Regions from separate parts of the Homo sapiens genome. Here region 2 is linked to region 1. A link means that fine-mapping ties the variant in region 1 to the expression of a gene that starts in the linked region. Tissue or cell type: spleen. Region 1 holds a variant in brackets; the other region holds the start of a gene. All regions are shown on one strand. Distances are from middle to middle.

Region 1 (8,112 bases):
TCCTTTTCAAATTAATACTTTCAATACAAGTTCAATATTGTCAAAGATGTTCTTTCCTTCTGATTTTTCTCCTCTGCCATCCATTTAATGTTGGCATTTTTCAAGGCTTGGTTCTGGACTCACTCTCCATCACACTTTATATACTCTCCCCCTAAGCAAGTTCATTCAAGCCTGTTGTTTCAATTACCACGGAAGGCAGATGACTTAAATTAGTTGTTCAGTTTGGACCTCTCCTCTAAGCTCCAGGGCTACACATCCAACTGCCTTTTGGACATCTTGCTACCCAACTCATGATCTATCATCTCCCTCAAACCAGCTTTTATCTGATATTTTGACATCATTTAATAGCTTCACAATCCATTTTGTTGTGCATGCCATAGAGAAAAATTAAATTCTCTCCCATTCTCACTCCCTCTCTCTCTCATTCTCTCTCTCCCCTCCTCTCTCTATCCTTCTCAAACTTCCGATTCAATCCATGACCAAGCTTTGAAAGTTGTATCTCCTAAATGGCTTTCAACTTGGTTCACTTCTGGCCATCTCCATCATCATTCTTTCTTTAAGATCATCATCACTTGCCTGCAGTACTGCTATACTAACTGCTCTTTCCACATGTATTGTAACCTTCTACTCTAACCCAGTCTGGAGTAGTGGCTCTTTACCAGCAGTGACTTTGCTCCCCACATGAGATTTTGCAATGTGCGAACACACTTTTAATAGTTATGACTCCAGAGCTAGGGACAAATGCTCCTGGCATCTAGTGGGTAGAGACCAGGAAGGCTGCCAAACATCCTACCTGCACAGAATAAGGCTCTAATAACAAAGAATTATCTGGTTCAAAATATTAACAGTGACAAGATTTAGAAATCCTGTTCTGGAGTTAGACTGCGCTTTTCACATGGCAGACCTGATTATGTCATGTGTGCATGTGTATACACACACACACACACACACACACACACACACACACACTTAAAAACATTCAATAACTTCCCATTGAGCTAAGACAAAGCAAATATGGTGCTGCAGGCCTTTGTGATCTGCTCCCGGCCTGCCTCTGCAGGCCATCCAGCACCACGTGTTTCCTTTCAGCCTCCCTGCTCCCACCTACTCTATCCTCTGTCCTCCCTCCCAGTCCAGGACATTTGCACATATTGTCTTCACCTGGAAAGCTCTTCACGTAGTTAAGCCCCATTCATTCTTCAAATATCAGCTGAAGGTCGTTTCCCTGGGAGAGCCCTATACAGGGCTCTCTCTCACTGAGTTAATTCCCCCATTAAGACACTCAGCATTAGAGTTGCATGTTTAATACTGACTCCTGGGCTTCGTTACTATTTGCCTCCTTCTCTAGACTGGAAGCCACAAAAGGTGAAAAACATTTCTTTATTTTATTTTAAATAAAATTATACCACCAGTAGTTGGTTGTTGAACATTAGGTGTTCAATGACTAAATCTCTTCCAAGAACATTTGAGAAAACTTAGTCCTAGAAATGGCAAGTGACTTAATCAAGGCCACAAAGCTTATTAGTAGCCAAGGGAGGGCTTGAATCCAACTTTCTTATTGTGAAATGCTGCATTTGTTCCTTCTAAAGTGGTATTGTACGCATTTGTTTAAGCTTCTAGATTTTTACTCAAAGTAAATCTTTTGTGGAAGCACAGTGTATAAAACAGATTACGAGAGATTAAAGCAGATCACTGCTTTGATTGGAGACAGCTCAATTCAGCCTCATCCAAGAAGCTCTTTTACATCTCTACACAGCTGCCTCCTTACCCCTTGCCAGGCCCTGAAGAGCTTGCCTCAGAATGACTTTGATGTGATGACTAGGGCTTGAAAATAAGTCCACTACATTCACATGTAGATTGTTCCTTACTGCCTCCGTACAAGATGCACTCTTGATACTTGTGAATTCCAAAATGAGAATACCAATATAGTATAAGTTAATGTCATCACCAGCTGAAATTTAATCAAATCACATTTCCATGTAGGTATATGAAACAGAAATTATTCCTTAATATCATCAGTCTGAGTCCATGGACCATGTTCAGTATTCCACCTTTTACCAAAACATAAATTTTCCTAACAAAAATCACAACTTTGTAGGGATCTGCACCTTCTATTTATCTCATCTTGTTTTTGCCAATGCTAGCAGTTGGATTAAATTGCTGAAACAAAACAAGCAAACATACTGCGTTCATGTCATAGCAGTCACCTTCCAGGACAGTGGAGAGGACACCAGAATGAACTGAGATAAGGATGTTATACTCGTGCCACATGTAATGGCATGTCTGACACTGTGTCTCAACAGCATGATACCTCACTACAAGTTATGAACATATGGATTTTTTGTAATAGTTGGAAACACATGTTAAAGGGAATGCCCTGAAAAAAATGACAAGTTCTTTTTCTCTATTTTTCTCCTGCAATTGTTTTTAGCTTCAGTTAAAGTTCACTCTAATGAAGACAGCATACATCATATATTTTGGGAGTATCCAAAGATGATATGATTACCAGATAACAATATTTCTAGTGATTTTATATATATGTGTATATATGTGTATATACACACATTTGTAATAAATGTATGTACACACATATACATAGTGAATATATTCATATATATGAATATATATTCATGTATATTCATGTGTATATGTATATTATATATTTGTGTGAATATATATCTTCACATATACTTATGTACATGTGATATATGTATATATATATTTACGTGTGTGTATATATCTTCATATATACTTGTTATGTACATGTGATGTATGTATATATATATTTACATGTGTGTATATATTATATATAAATTGAAAAGCTTTTCTTTTCTAACCATAGCAAAGACATAGAAAATGTATCTACTCTAAGAATGTTTCGAAGCTTTTAGCTGTCTCTCAAACTTGACTCACTCATGTCTGTGTACTTAAGAGGTAACAAAAGTGAAAAACAATTACTGACATCATTATCTGAATGGCTGCTTAGAGAAATACAATAGTGCCTTCTTATCCATGGGGGTCATGTTACAAGGCCCTTAGTGGATGCCTAAAACCACATATAGTACCGAACCCTACATATACTCTGTCTTTTCCTAAATATATGTATACCTATAATAAAGTTTAACTTTTAAATTCAGCACAGTAAGAGATTCACAACAATAACTCATAATAAAATAGACTAACTAAAACACTATGCTGTAATAAAAGTTAAATAAGAGTGATTTGACCACAAGCACTGCAATACTACGATAGTCCATCTGATAACCAAGACAGCTTCTAAGTGAATCACGGTGGGTAGTATGGACAAACAAACTGATGATTCACGTCCTGGGCAGATGGAGTGATCCTCAGATCAGCATGCAATTTAAAATTTATGAATGGTTTATTTCTGGAATTTTTCATTTCATATTGTGGACCGCAGGTAAATAAAACTGCAGAAACCAAACCTACAGTTACAGGGAAGACTACTGTGTGACCTCCTGTATGAAAATCTTTAACTTATGTGTAGCTGTTGAAAACATTTTCAACATATTACTTGACATATTTAAAACTAGACTTTTGCTTCTTGAACTGTCTTGAGTCATTTACTTACTTTTTGCAATGTTTTTATTCAAAATATTTAGTCTACTTGGCTGGTTTGTTTTATTTGATTACATTACTTGGCCTATACAATAAGGAATCTGTATATTCCTTATTGGCCTATACAATAAGGAATGCTAGACTTTCTATGTTGGAAATATCCTTTATATTTCCTTTCTTTGGGAATCTTTTATCTCTTCACCTTTAAATTACTATCTGAAGAAGTAATTTCATAATCTTTATGAATCGAAAAACTGTATTCAATGTATGCTGGCTGAATGGGCTTGTAATTTGGGAACTCTATAATTGCTAAGGTTATCATTACAGGGTGAACATGACATTAAACTCATTTCCTTCTGTCTTCAGCATATAATGTTTTTACATTGCCATTTTTTGAAAGTCCCTCATCAACATTTCTCAGGCCTAGAAAGTTGCATCCATTAACATATATTATGTTGTATTGTGACCCTTATTTCCACTCTCTCTCTTTTATGAGAGAAAAAAACACACACACATGAAAGGAAGGCTAATTCAGAAGTGGAACCAGTGGCAGAAAAGTAAACTAAGCGTTCAGATATATGTTTGCAGTTCTTGGCAAAGTTATCAACATTTTACC[T/C]GAAGCATATTGAAAACATCCCTCATGACAGAAATCCCTCCCTCTTTCATTTCTGCCTTCTAACCCCCCTAAAAAACACATCTGTTTCCTACTGATAGCTTTTAACATACAACCCTTTAATGTCTTGTAACAGGAAGTGGAAATTGAGCGAAGTTTGTGCTCGCCAGCTTTTAAGAGTCACCCTGGGAGCCAGCTGGAGGATTCTGTGAAAGATTCAGACAAGAAAGGCAAGGAAACATCTTTTGACAAGATGTCACCTGAAAGTGGTCACAGCCGCATCTTTGAAGGTTAGCATAACATTTTGATATGCTTTCTTGACATCATACCTTGTACAACATGAGTGGTTAATAAATAAAATATATGAGGGGTTTGTTTAAAAATTAGTAAGGAAAATAATGACTGCATATAGTTTAGGAAATACAATTTAGGAAAAATAGAGGTGTTTATAAATGCTTCTATCCTTATTATATTTTAATTAGATTTTTAAAACTAAATAGAATATATTTTAATTGACTATAAACCAGTACAACAAGCATTTTCAGTATTAGAGGTTTGAAACAATGCACTTGACCATAATCTGACTTTAACTTTTGTGAAAATAAAAGGAAAACATACTTGTCTTTCTGTCTGTGGGTAACAAAAGAATAAACTAGGAGTAACTATCAGTAGCAAAATAAAAAAATAAATAAGATGCCTTAAGCATCTCCTTTTCAGACAATTAAACTAAACTTGCATAATGAATTTGGAATACAAAGTGACATAAGAGTGTTACATTTTAGACAGAACCTCATAAATTTGATTAATGCTTCACAAATATCATTAAAAAGTTAATAGCTCGTATGTTAGAAATCACACTATTAATATTATTTTCAACAATGACAGACATGAAAAATATAAATAACTTATTGGAAAATACAGATCTTATTTATCATTTCTGATTAGGCACATTCTGGATTTTTCCTCTTTAGCCAAATAATGTCTATTGTAGTATTTGTGGTGTTTGTTAAAGATCATAATTAGTACAAATTTTAAGATATCGTTTGGAATATTTGTAGCAAACTGTCAAGTCACCAGTCCATGTGAGCAATGTGGAAAGTCTTTGGAATATTACAGTTCACAGTTTGGGAAAGCAAATGGTACTCTGCTTTAAAACTTTGTTATTGAAAGTGCTGTTTGCGAATCAGCACGTCAGCATCACCTGGAGGCTTATTAGAAATGCAGAACCTTCGGCCTCACATCAGTTCTACTAAATCAGAATCTGCATTGTAACAGGATCCTCAAATGATTCATGTGCACATTAAAGTTTGAGAAGCTGTACACTGTGACAGAACAGACTGGTCTTCAGGGGAATTTACATATGGTTCAGCCCATTCTGATTCCGTTTGGTTTAAGGATGTAATTTGGAGTGGGAGGCAGGTGTAGGAACAGTCAAGGGGAGTTTGCTAATGATGGACTGGGCATGGATTTCTAAATACATGTAAATTGAGATTTCAATCTCTTTTTCACTTTCAATTCATTTTGGTATGCCCAATTAATATCCTAATATGATTAGTATCAGTCTTGAGGAATTTACTCCACATATTTCTGGCCTGTGATTAAACTTTATGTGCACTTGGCTGAATGCAAAAGAATTAGATTAGCAGAGGCCAAGGAAAAAGAAGCTTTAAGGAATGATTTATATTCTGATGATGCTTGCCTGTGGAGAGCTTAGCATAGGGAGGCAAAAATGAGTTTGGCAAACTGATCGAAGTTACATGAGATAATTAACTCCACTCATCACATCTTACTTCTCCTCATCTGTGTTTTCTTTGATTTCCATGCAAAGGTTTTCAAAGGCCTTTTTATGTTAAAAGCTTAGAAAAAGTATTCTGGAGTGTAACCACTATTTACTGTCAAGATATGACTGAAATTTAAAAGTAACCTCAAATACACATTTCCAGGTACATTGACAATAACAAGAAGTAAACTTCCAAACACAAGGTGGGAAAATTGCATCTGCAAGGTGGATGAACATAGCAGCAATTTTAATTTCATTTTATCTGTATATTGCACAAGAACTCTAATTCCTACGTAGCAATACATTTAAAAGAAACAAAATTCTTTCATTATGGGATCCTTTTCGTTCTTTCATGGGGCCCCAAATTTCTATCTCTGTTGGGACAAGAATGAACTATTTTAATACTTAATTTAGTTAACTTGGACAGCATGCAAGTTAAACTGGACAAAACCTACAAACCAAGAGCATTTTGATATTGCTGTTTTGCTGTAAATATTTATTTTATTCCAAAAAGATAAACACATGTTTCTAAATAAAGTGTGATAACTGAAAGATTTCAGAATTTATACAATTATATGAGTGACTGTGACAGCCTTATACATTAAACATCTTAACTAGCCGCAAGAGTTTCATATTGAGGCAGTATTTATTTGTAGTAATATGAAAAACAGTAGATTTTTAAAATTACACTTATAAAAGATAATTTAAGTGCAGCTACCTAATATCCTGCATATTTAAAATTTAGTAAACAGTGTGAATTGATAACTCCATTCCAGGACTGAGGACTAGCAATGCCTGTCAGTTTGGTTCCACTCCAATATCCTCAATGGCAGAACCAGAACAGCACAGAAAGGTGCTATGATTTTCCCCAGCCTCTCTTTTTATGCCTGATGATACACTCCCAGGTTCCCAGTTTGTGGACAATTGCTCTCACCACGTCTATTTTATTTGCTCCTTTTCCTCACTTATGTATTGGTGTCAAATAAACCATAGTGCTCCCGTGTGCATGTTGGTGCATTCCATTCACATTTTCTTGGAGATACACTCTAACAGTTGTTAAAATGATTCTAGGAAGACTTAGACCATATGTCATTAAATGTCAAGCATAGCAAATCCATAATTTGACAAATTTGGGTAATTTGATAATAGATGGGATATGAAAGAAAACAAATCAATCAGTGTAAATGATTTGATTAATTGTATTATACTAATATAAAAATCTGATTCGTTGGGCTGGGCACAGTGACTCATGCCTGTAATCCCAGCATTTTGGGAGGCCAAGGCGGGCGAATCACCTAGGGTCAGGAGTTTGAGACCAGCCCCGACCAACATGGTGAAACCCCATCTCTACTAAAAATACAAAAATTAGCTGGGCATGATAGTGGGTGCCTGTAATCTCAGCTACTCGGGAGGCTGAGGCAGGAGAATCACTTGAACCTGGCAGGTGGAGGCTTCAGTGAGCCGAGATGGCGCCACTGCACTCCAGGCTGGCCAACAGAGCGAGACTCTGTCTCAAAAAATATATATATATGCATATATATACGTACGTATATATATGCATATATATATATATGATTTGTTGAATTTCTTTTAGATATTTTAAGACCAGTAAGCTAGAAAGTGAATACTGGAAGTCTTAGGTACTGGTGTTTGATCTAGATGTATGTAGAATTGAAAAATATACTCTTCCTGCTGAAAAACTCTGGATCAAGGAATGCTTCAAATATCAGAATTGAATGGGTCATGTTCATCAGATTTATATGACTTGGAGTTTTTTAATATGACAATTGCCTGCCCTTCACTTTTATTCTCTAACTCATAATTTTAATTTTAATCTTCTAAGTCATCAACATGTAAAATGTCAAAAGATAAAATATATATTCAAAGTCACTTTTTCCAGGCTTTTGCAATAAACCTTGGAAATTACCTGCTGTATTTCTCTTTTTATTCTGCTCCATTAAAACTAAATTCATTCTTTATTCTTATAATGGCCATTCATCTCCTCTGACGGGTTTTACAAAACAAACTGAGACTTCTGTTCTTTCAGTTTTCTACTGCTCTTTACGTGAGGGGATCCTTCCAGTCATTAATGTTTCTAAAATACTGTAGTATGTATATGTATTTGTGTGATTGTCATTTA
Region 2 (8,112 bases), 250 kb before region 1:
GGCCTGGTGGCAGGCACCTGTAAACCCAGCTACAGCGGAGGCTGAGGCATAAGAATCGCTTGAACCTGGAAGGCAGAGGTTTTAGTGAGCTGAGGTCACGCCACTGCACTCTAGCCTGAGTGACAGAATGAGACTCTGTAAAAAAAAAAAAAAAAAAAAAAAAAGCTCAAGAGTTTGAAGATGTAGGGGGTTCTATCAGAGAAAAATTGCACTCGACAAGTTGAACAGGCAAGAAAGGATTTATTTAAGACATCACTTTAGGGAAGAGAGATTGAAAGCATCTCTGCTGAAACAAAAGTTGGTAGAGTTTTATAGTGGGGTGAACTGGTGGAAAAGTACTGGAGGACATTAGTGGGGAGGTGGTCAGTGTGACTAGGCCATCTGTGTTTACTAATTGACACTTACTGAAGTTGGGCTCTTACCTTCCCATAGAGACTGGGAGATGGGAATGCTATCTTTCTTGATTTTTTTAAAAAATATTTTAATATGACTACATAATAGTTGTATGTTATTTATGGGATACATGTGATGTTTTGACACAAGCCTGCAGTGTGTAATGACTGCATCAGGGTAGGTCCTTGAGAAAACTTTTCTGGGTTATAAAATTGGCAAGAAGCTGGGAGAAGATTCAGAGAGTCAAAAAATTTGCAATCGAAAGTTTTCTAAAGTAGATATTCTAAGGGAGTCAGGGGTCAATAGTAAGAAGTCTGTAAAGTATAGTCAAGCTGCAGAAAATATTAAGGCATTCTTAGCCATTTTGAATACTATCTCTGTCACTAATCCTGTGAACTTGAACGGGTCATTTTCCCTTTATGACCTGGACAATGTGAGATTTTGATTCAGGGCTTCCATTAAAATCACTAATGCTAAAATTCTGTTTCAAAGGCTGTTACTCAGCCATTAGTCACCGTGATTGCCTTACTGATTTTTAAAATATCAAAAATAATTTTGAAATTCTTTGTAAATGTCCTCCTTGTGACTCCGAAACTTTCCCAAGATATAGTCAATGCTTCCAGGATGCTGCTTTAATACTAGGATTATGTCCATCTGATACTAGTTGTTAAATATTCAGAATATCACTCTGGGCTATTGCAATCTACTTAACAGTTAGTTAGAAAGCAATCCTAGTAAAAACATGGCATTAGCAATAAAGACTTCAATAGGACTTCAATATATCTTATTTTCCTAAGAATCTGTACTTGCCACTGCAATTGCTGTATACTCCCAAACAATCTGGTATCAAATGTTTATTTTCCAAATTTTTTTAAAACCTTTTCCCTTATGTTCAGTTAAAGTCAATTGATTTTGGCCCCATGTAAAATATGCAGGAGATCACAAATGAATCAAAATATTAACTGTCTTTTAACATTTCTCAGTCTATTAAAGGAATAGAAATAAGCAATTTATAAAGTGCTGAGAGAATACATGACTAATTCTGGTTGTTGATGGTGAACAGGTTAGAACTATGATGACTAGAAGAATTAAAAGCATTTATATTAGGGTACATTTGTGGATGGTTTGCTTGAATAGAAAAAGAAAATTTAAGAGACCCATTAGAATTTTATTCAAATATTTAAAGATTGTTTGTTCATGTGGAAGAAGGATTAGACTTGTTTTATATGGCCTCAAGGCTTAGAACAGGCTCAAAGGGAAAATTACAGAGATATTTTGGGTTTAATGCAAGAAATATAATTTTTCAAATGAGAGCTTATTCAAAACCCTTGCTTTGGACTTCCACAACTCCTCTGCCAAGCCTTTCAACAATGAATTATAGTCAGAAATTAATTCACTGGAATGTCACACCAAAATATAAGGTCCTGGGGAATAAAAGACTGCATGGGATTTAATTCAATAACTAGTGACTTTTTTCCCAGTTGATTTTGGATCTCATGTGTGTCAAGTTGATGAATTAATAAATACAAGTGAGTCTCTTACAATAATGTGCCAACCCAGTCTGGAGGGCCCATCCACATGTGTATTGTAGGAGAAGTCTAAGCATCTAATAATTGTTGAGACTAGATGATTTAGCACAGCCCAACAGAAATAAGTGTTGTTAAGACGCAATTCCCTAAAAGGTCCTGGTTGACATTCAGTGCATTAGAATCTGAACTTCAGCAACCAGGTAGGTTTACCCAGATCAGATATGTATAACAACACCTGGAGAAAGTTTTTAATTTAAGTCCTAATAAAGATACCAAAGCCTAGCTGAGAATGAATAAACAAATATTCAAGAACAACTACTTGCTATGGATTTATTATGTAGTCAAATATAAATACTATAGTTAGGCTCCAGTATAAACTTGCTGTCTGTGTCTTCATGGGAATGGGCAAAATATCTCACCCCCATCAAATTGAATGGTTGGTGCACTTCTTTATTCTTTAGAGTGGGCCTAGTGCAACTTCTCAAGCCTACTCAGGTGGCAACTAAAAATTAGAGTTGGCACATGAGATGAAAATTATTTTCAAGCTCTTGTCTAAGGAAATACTTTATTGTTGATATAGTGTCTACTACCCTTTCTTTGAAATCTCACTATCTTCATCTGTCTCCCACTGTTACAAGCTTCTAGGATGGGATGATAATGTACTGAAATCAGGTTATTTATCATTATTTCCAAATACTTTGAATATCTGCTAAAGGGATTCCTCAAAATTCACTTTAAAATCAATTATTATTTTTACTAAGTGGTTTATTATTTTAATGCACACACAGATTTCTGGTTTTCTGCTTAGGAACTATACCAATGTTTCTTAAAAATGTCACTCTCTTATTTGTCCATGCTGTTTTCATTTTGTTAAACGAGTCATTTTGTTAAATGAGTCTTTGGAGATGAGAGGGATACATTAACCTTTTCTTGTGGGAAAAACATTTGGACTCAGAAGTAAAAATGGATCCCTCACTGGTCAGAAGCATTGACTCAAAGGCATGCCTCATTTCATGCCATTCATCTTCACTCTCCTGGGCCTCCAAACCCCAAATGTGCCAACAGTAGTCCCATCGCAACATTATGTGGGCATTACAGTTCTACACATCCTTTTCTGTTGGGGATCTTGCTTTTTTAAAAAAACAGAAGTAGCAAAATGATGCTGATTCTTACTTGGTTTCTCATAATTACCGATAATATTTTGTTTAAAATAGTGAGAATCAGCCCTGCCACAACTTGGTCTTGAATGCTCTCATCTTTATATCTAACCAGTCACCTTACATGTTCAATATTCCAGCTGAGTATCACTTCCAGATATGTTCAGCATAGTTATTCAATAGGAGTACTTAATAAAGACAAAATGTCACCCAAACTGTATTTTCTCTCTGTGTTATGTGGAATTTGCCTGACTTTGGTCAGGATATATTTTGTCTATCCAGTTCTCTGTGTCTACTGTTTTTGTCACTCTGTCGTGGAAGGAAATTAAGTTGATTTGACAGGATTTATTTTTCACAGTGCCAAGGAGATTTTACCCAGTAACTCATGATTTTCTAGGTGCTTGAAAATTGATTTTTTGATGATATGTTTCAGTAAGTTTTCAACTAAATACTGATGCTGACAGGTCTGTAATTTCTAAAGTTATCTGTTTTTTAATCTTCCCAGAGTAGAAACAAGAAACACACCAAGATAAGTACTGCATTTAGTCTTTTTAATATAGCAGAATGTCTAAGTCCTTTTTAAGTTCATAGATGTTGAGCTAATTGTTCTTTATTGACTTTGGCAAACTCTTGGAAAAATAATTAAGTCACCAGAATTTGCAGTTCAAAATGTGACCAGTTTATAACATTAGCCTTGTAGTCGAACCTTTATATCACACCCTGTATCGTCTCCAAATACCATATCATAACTGCCCTATATTTTAAGCTTTCAAACAAGATTTCTGAAACCTACAGTTTGAATACTGGCTAAGCACTGCAGTTATTTATATAATTTATGGTCATTTTTATATATGAAAATTCATTGATTAAAGTTGTAAGATTTAATTTATTATATTAAAATGCATTTCTGCTATTGAATTCCTTTATGCAAAAAAATCAACATTGTCTTTAGTAGTATATCACTGAACCCCTTATATATAAAAACCCCAGTTTGGAACAAAGAGCTATTAGATGACCAAATAAGAATCAAATTAGACTCTGCAATTAGAGTCTGCGAAGAGAAAGACTTTACTTATTTGAAATAGTATATAGCTTACTATATGTAAAATAAAATAAAATTATCTCAGAAGCTGTGGTCTCCTATAATTTGTAGAAGATGATAACTGATATCGCTAAGCACTTTTTGGTTGCAAATAACTATACTTAAATACTGCTAATAAAAGCTGACATCCGCTGATCACTTGCTTCATACCAAGCACTATCCTAAGTTCTTTATGAGCGTGATTTCATTTATTTTGTTCATCTCACAACAGTATAGTTAGAACATACTATTATCATCCCAATTTTCAAGTGAGGAAACTAATGTTTGGATATATTAAATAATGCATCTAATGTCATATACTAGTGTTTGAGTAGGAATTTGAAGCCATTTGGTTTGAATCTGGACTCTATGTTCATGATCATTATCCAAAATTCTCAGGTGTCCCAACCCCTCACAAATGACTTTGAATTAAATATTAGGTTTATTTTTATATGTATGGAACCTGACGCACAGTGATAATTAAAGTGTAGCTCAGCCATAGAGTGAGCCATTGGTCACTATGGGTCTTTGGGTTAAAACATACCTTTAAGAATATGTAGGAAAAAAATGATAATAGCTAACTCAGCAGCATTCATTAATTCATCTGCAGCAGATTAACTTGTTCCAAAATAATGAGATAATCTGATTCTGATGGAACATGGAGCAGACAAATTCTTCTAGAACCCGACCTGTTTCTATGTGGGTGTATCCAGGAAGTCAGGATTATTTGGAGAAATCTGGCAGGTCTCTAGGCAGACAAAAGGGAACATCTGGTAGGGACTGGGACATGTAGAAAAAAGGTAAGATTTTCCTAAGAAAAACCACTTCTTTCATAATTTTTTCTACACATACATGCTTCTCTTTGATAGTTTCTGACAGGACACTATTTTGCCTCTCTCTCCCTATTTCTTTTAAGTAATATACATTAAATTAGCATAGAATCACAGCATCATCAACAAATTCAGGCTAGCGCTTAGTGACAGACACTGCTGCTAGAATCTCTAGTTATTCATTTGTTTTTCTAACTAAGAAACAATTTAATCTGGGGCAGCAATGTGCCCAGAGAAAAAATAGTTAATCTCTCAGACTCAAAACACGTAAGTTTGGCTATATATTATATTTTTGGACACTGAAAGATAGTCAGGGACTTCTGGGGAAGAAATTTAACAAAAACAGCATCACCCAAAGAAAGCATCTGGGCAATTCTCCTTTCTTCCTTCGTTCCATTGAGTCAGGTCAGAGAGGACTCGCCAGGGACAAAGCCATGACCCTCAGGGACCCAAGGGCATGAGCCTGCAGCTGACAGCCCCATTCTGAATAAGCATTCAGGCACACAGACCAGGGTGGTTGTTGCAAACCCCTCAGCAGCTGCCTCCTGGCACAACCACCCACTAACATGTGATCTAGCAGACAAATGGAAGCTCTTCTTACCCCACTTCTTAGGCACTCCAACAAGGGTTCTGAATTCTAAAAACAGCAAAAAACATTCAAATTGTTACATATGAAATGCTTTCCTGCACCTTTCTATCTCAGAGATGACAGCTGTCCCTCCTCCACTCTCTCCCCACTCGCCCCCAGACACCTCCCTAAACAATTTCTGTGCCAAGATGAAGAGGATGTCCCAGGCCATGGGGCTTCTGGCCTTGAAGGGCTGCTGCAGTGGAGCCAGGGCACAGGGTAGGTGAGACACAGCAGAGGTTCTGGCCCAGGTCCCTGGCCTCTCCTCCTGCAGGTGGCGTTTATTTATTCAAGGGGAGCAACCATGTTCATTTTCCCAACAATGTGGCACCATATTTTGCTTTCCTCTCCACTTCCTTCTTCCTTGCAGCCTTCTCCCACTGTTTCCAGATGATCACCAGCCAGGCAAGGCCCACCTTGGCTTGCTCTGTCTCTCCTGCTAGTGCATTTTCTCCTTAAAAGCTCCTTTAGCCTGTCCAGATCCACTTGTTTGACCTTTCTGGTTGTCTATCCTACCTGCTTGGGGTTCTTGATGTTGATGAGTCCTTCCATGCCTTTGTGCTTTTGCTGGTAGTCATTTTCTTCATTTTCATTCTCTCATAAGTCTAGATTTCTTCCCCTTTTTGGGGTAAGCCCCATCTCCACCTTCTTCTCCTTGTTATTCTTCTCCATAGCAAGCAATCCTCAAGCAGGTATTGAATTAATGAATGGTGTTGTGTCTTCTCCAGTTCATTAATATTTCTGTTGATGTAGCTAAGTTTTATTTACTTTTTAGTTTTATTTTATTTTATTTTATTTGAGACAGAGTCTTGCTCTGTCACCCAGACTGGAGCATAGTGGTGTGATCTCGGCTCACTGCAACGTCCACCTCCCAGGTTCAAGCGATTCTCCTGCCTCAGCCTCCTGAGTAGCTGGTATTACAGGCACGTGCCACCATGCTGGCTATTTTTTTGTTTTTTAGTAGAGATGGGGTTTCACCGTGTTAGCCAGGATGGTCTCAATCTTCTGACCTCATGATCCTCCCACCTCAGCCTCCCAAACTGCTGGGATTACAGGCATGAGCCACCGTGCCTGGCCCCTAAGTTTTATTTTTTAACTGTGGGTTCATAGGCTTCGGGCATCAGAATCACCTCTTGGTGCTTTCTAAGAAGGCCAGTTCCCAGTTCAAATTCCAGACCTTGAAACTAGCTGAAACTCCCCGAGTGGGCCCTTAAGAATCTGCAGTGCTAAGGACATCTCAGATGATGTTGGTGCACAGAAAAGGTGAGAACCAGAGCATCTGAACAGACTGTAAATCCCTGAAGTCTGGATTTATGTTTTATAATTCTTTGACAGCTCTCAATAGTAAACTCTAAAAGTTTGTTTTTATTTTTATTATTCACACTGAGATTCATATTTGAAATTTCATGAGAGCAAATTTTGCATGCTTCTTTTATTACAGATGTATTCTGTATGTGGGTGTAGCAGAAGCTGATATGACAGATCATCAGCTTTGTCCTAAATAACAGGTATTGTCTGGTACGCAGCCTGCTTGGGATAATCCATGAAATATTTAACAAATTTCTTCTTTTGTTAAATACTAATTACCCATATCCTCCAGACAGTTTTCTGGGACTCTGAGATGGGTCCTTTTACTAAGGATGAGTTTATTTTTCTATAGAATTTGGAAACAAAAGCTGCTTCAATCAGCCTTTAACGAGTAAACTTGTAAGCTGAGTACCTAGCACAAACAGGGGTTATGGTTGAGGGTGCACTTCTCTCTTCCATGACTTACTAAATAATGCAGCTCCCAGAGCTGGCTATGAGAGATTTGGTGTCTTGTAGCTGCTATCTGGCGACGTATGTCCATCATGCTTGATGTTCATTAGTTAGATGAGATCAGTAAGTTAAAGAACTGTTAAATTTGTGTTTTCCTTTAATGGATACGTGACTGTGGTAGCTGAGTCACAGGACAGAAATTTGACAGAAAAAGACATGGCGGTAAGATAAGCTTATTGCAAATATACAACTTCATAAATTCTTCTAATAACTTGTCTTAGCAAGGTGCCTTAGCTGGTTCACTTAATAAATGTGAATGTGGAGATAAAAGAAAGAAAAATAAACAAATGCATTGTTCCTATCTCTTTTTTACATATATGAATTATGCATGCATCCTATTAGTGGGAAATTAAGTAATGTACTATGTTAGCTACATTTTTGGCAGAAAAATTAATTGTTCTGATAAACCTAGCATAGCTGGAGAAGTTAATGTAATTGACAATATATAATAATAAAGCTTTAGTTAAGTTTTTTCCTTAATATTGAAAATGCCATTTCTTTGAATCTCTTAACTAATTTCTTTCACATTCTTATCAGATAGATATTGAGCAACTATCTGCCAAAACTAATTAAAATTTCCCTCCCAGAAAAGATCAATTACTTGCTTTATTTGGAAAAACACTTTCAGTTGTTGTCTTTTGATTTTTTTTCTCTGAAAAAAAAATTGTTGTCTGAT

Direction of the effects. Alleles are on the strand shown, and positions count from the first base shown. SD is a standard deviation of normalised expression in the study named.
In carriers of allele T in region 1, the expression in spleen of the gene that starts at base 4,883 in region 2 tends to be lower than with C alone (large effect, 1.1 SD a copy in GTEx).

Evidence for each region. PIP is the estimated chance that this variant, and not a neighbour inherited with it, causes the effect.
Region 2: it holds the start of XIRP2, and the variant in region 1 is fine-mapped to the expression of XIRP2 in spleen (GTEx, PIP above 0.99).

Annotation. Positions count from the first base shown.
Region 1 is chr2:167,131,581-167,139,692 of GRCh38, forward strand. It overlaps XIRP2 (xin actin binding repeat containing 2), which reads left to right. Exons shown (of 11, transcript NM_152381.6): 3 at 4,329-4,482. All of the region lies in intron 1 of XIRP2-AS1 (XIRP2 antisense RNA 1), which reads right to left. Among named protein-coding and RNA genes, the nearest start is that of XIRP2-AS1, 5.3 kb to the right of the region's middle. The variant T/C (reference allele first, on the strand shown) is at 4,196.
Region 2 is chr2:166,883,598-166,891,709 of GRCh38, forward strand. It overlaps XIRP2 (xin actin binding repeat containing 2), which reads left to right and starts at 4,883. Exons shown (of 11, transcript NM_152381.6): 1 at 4,883-4,960.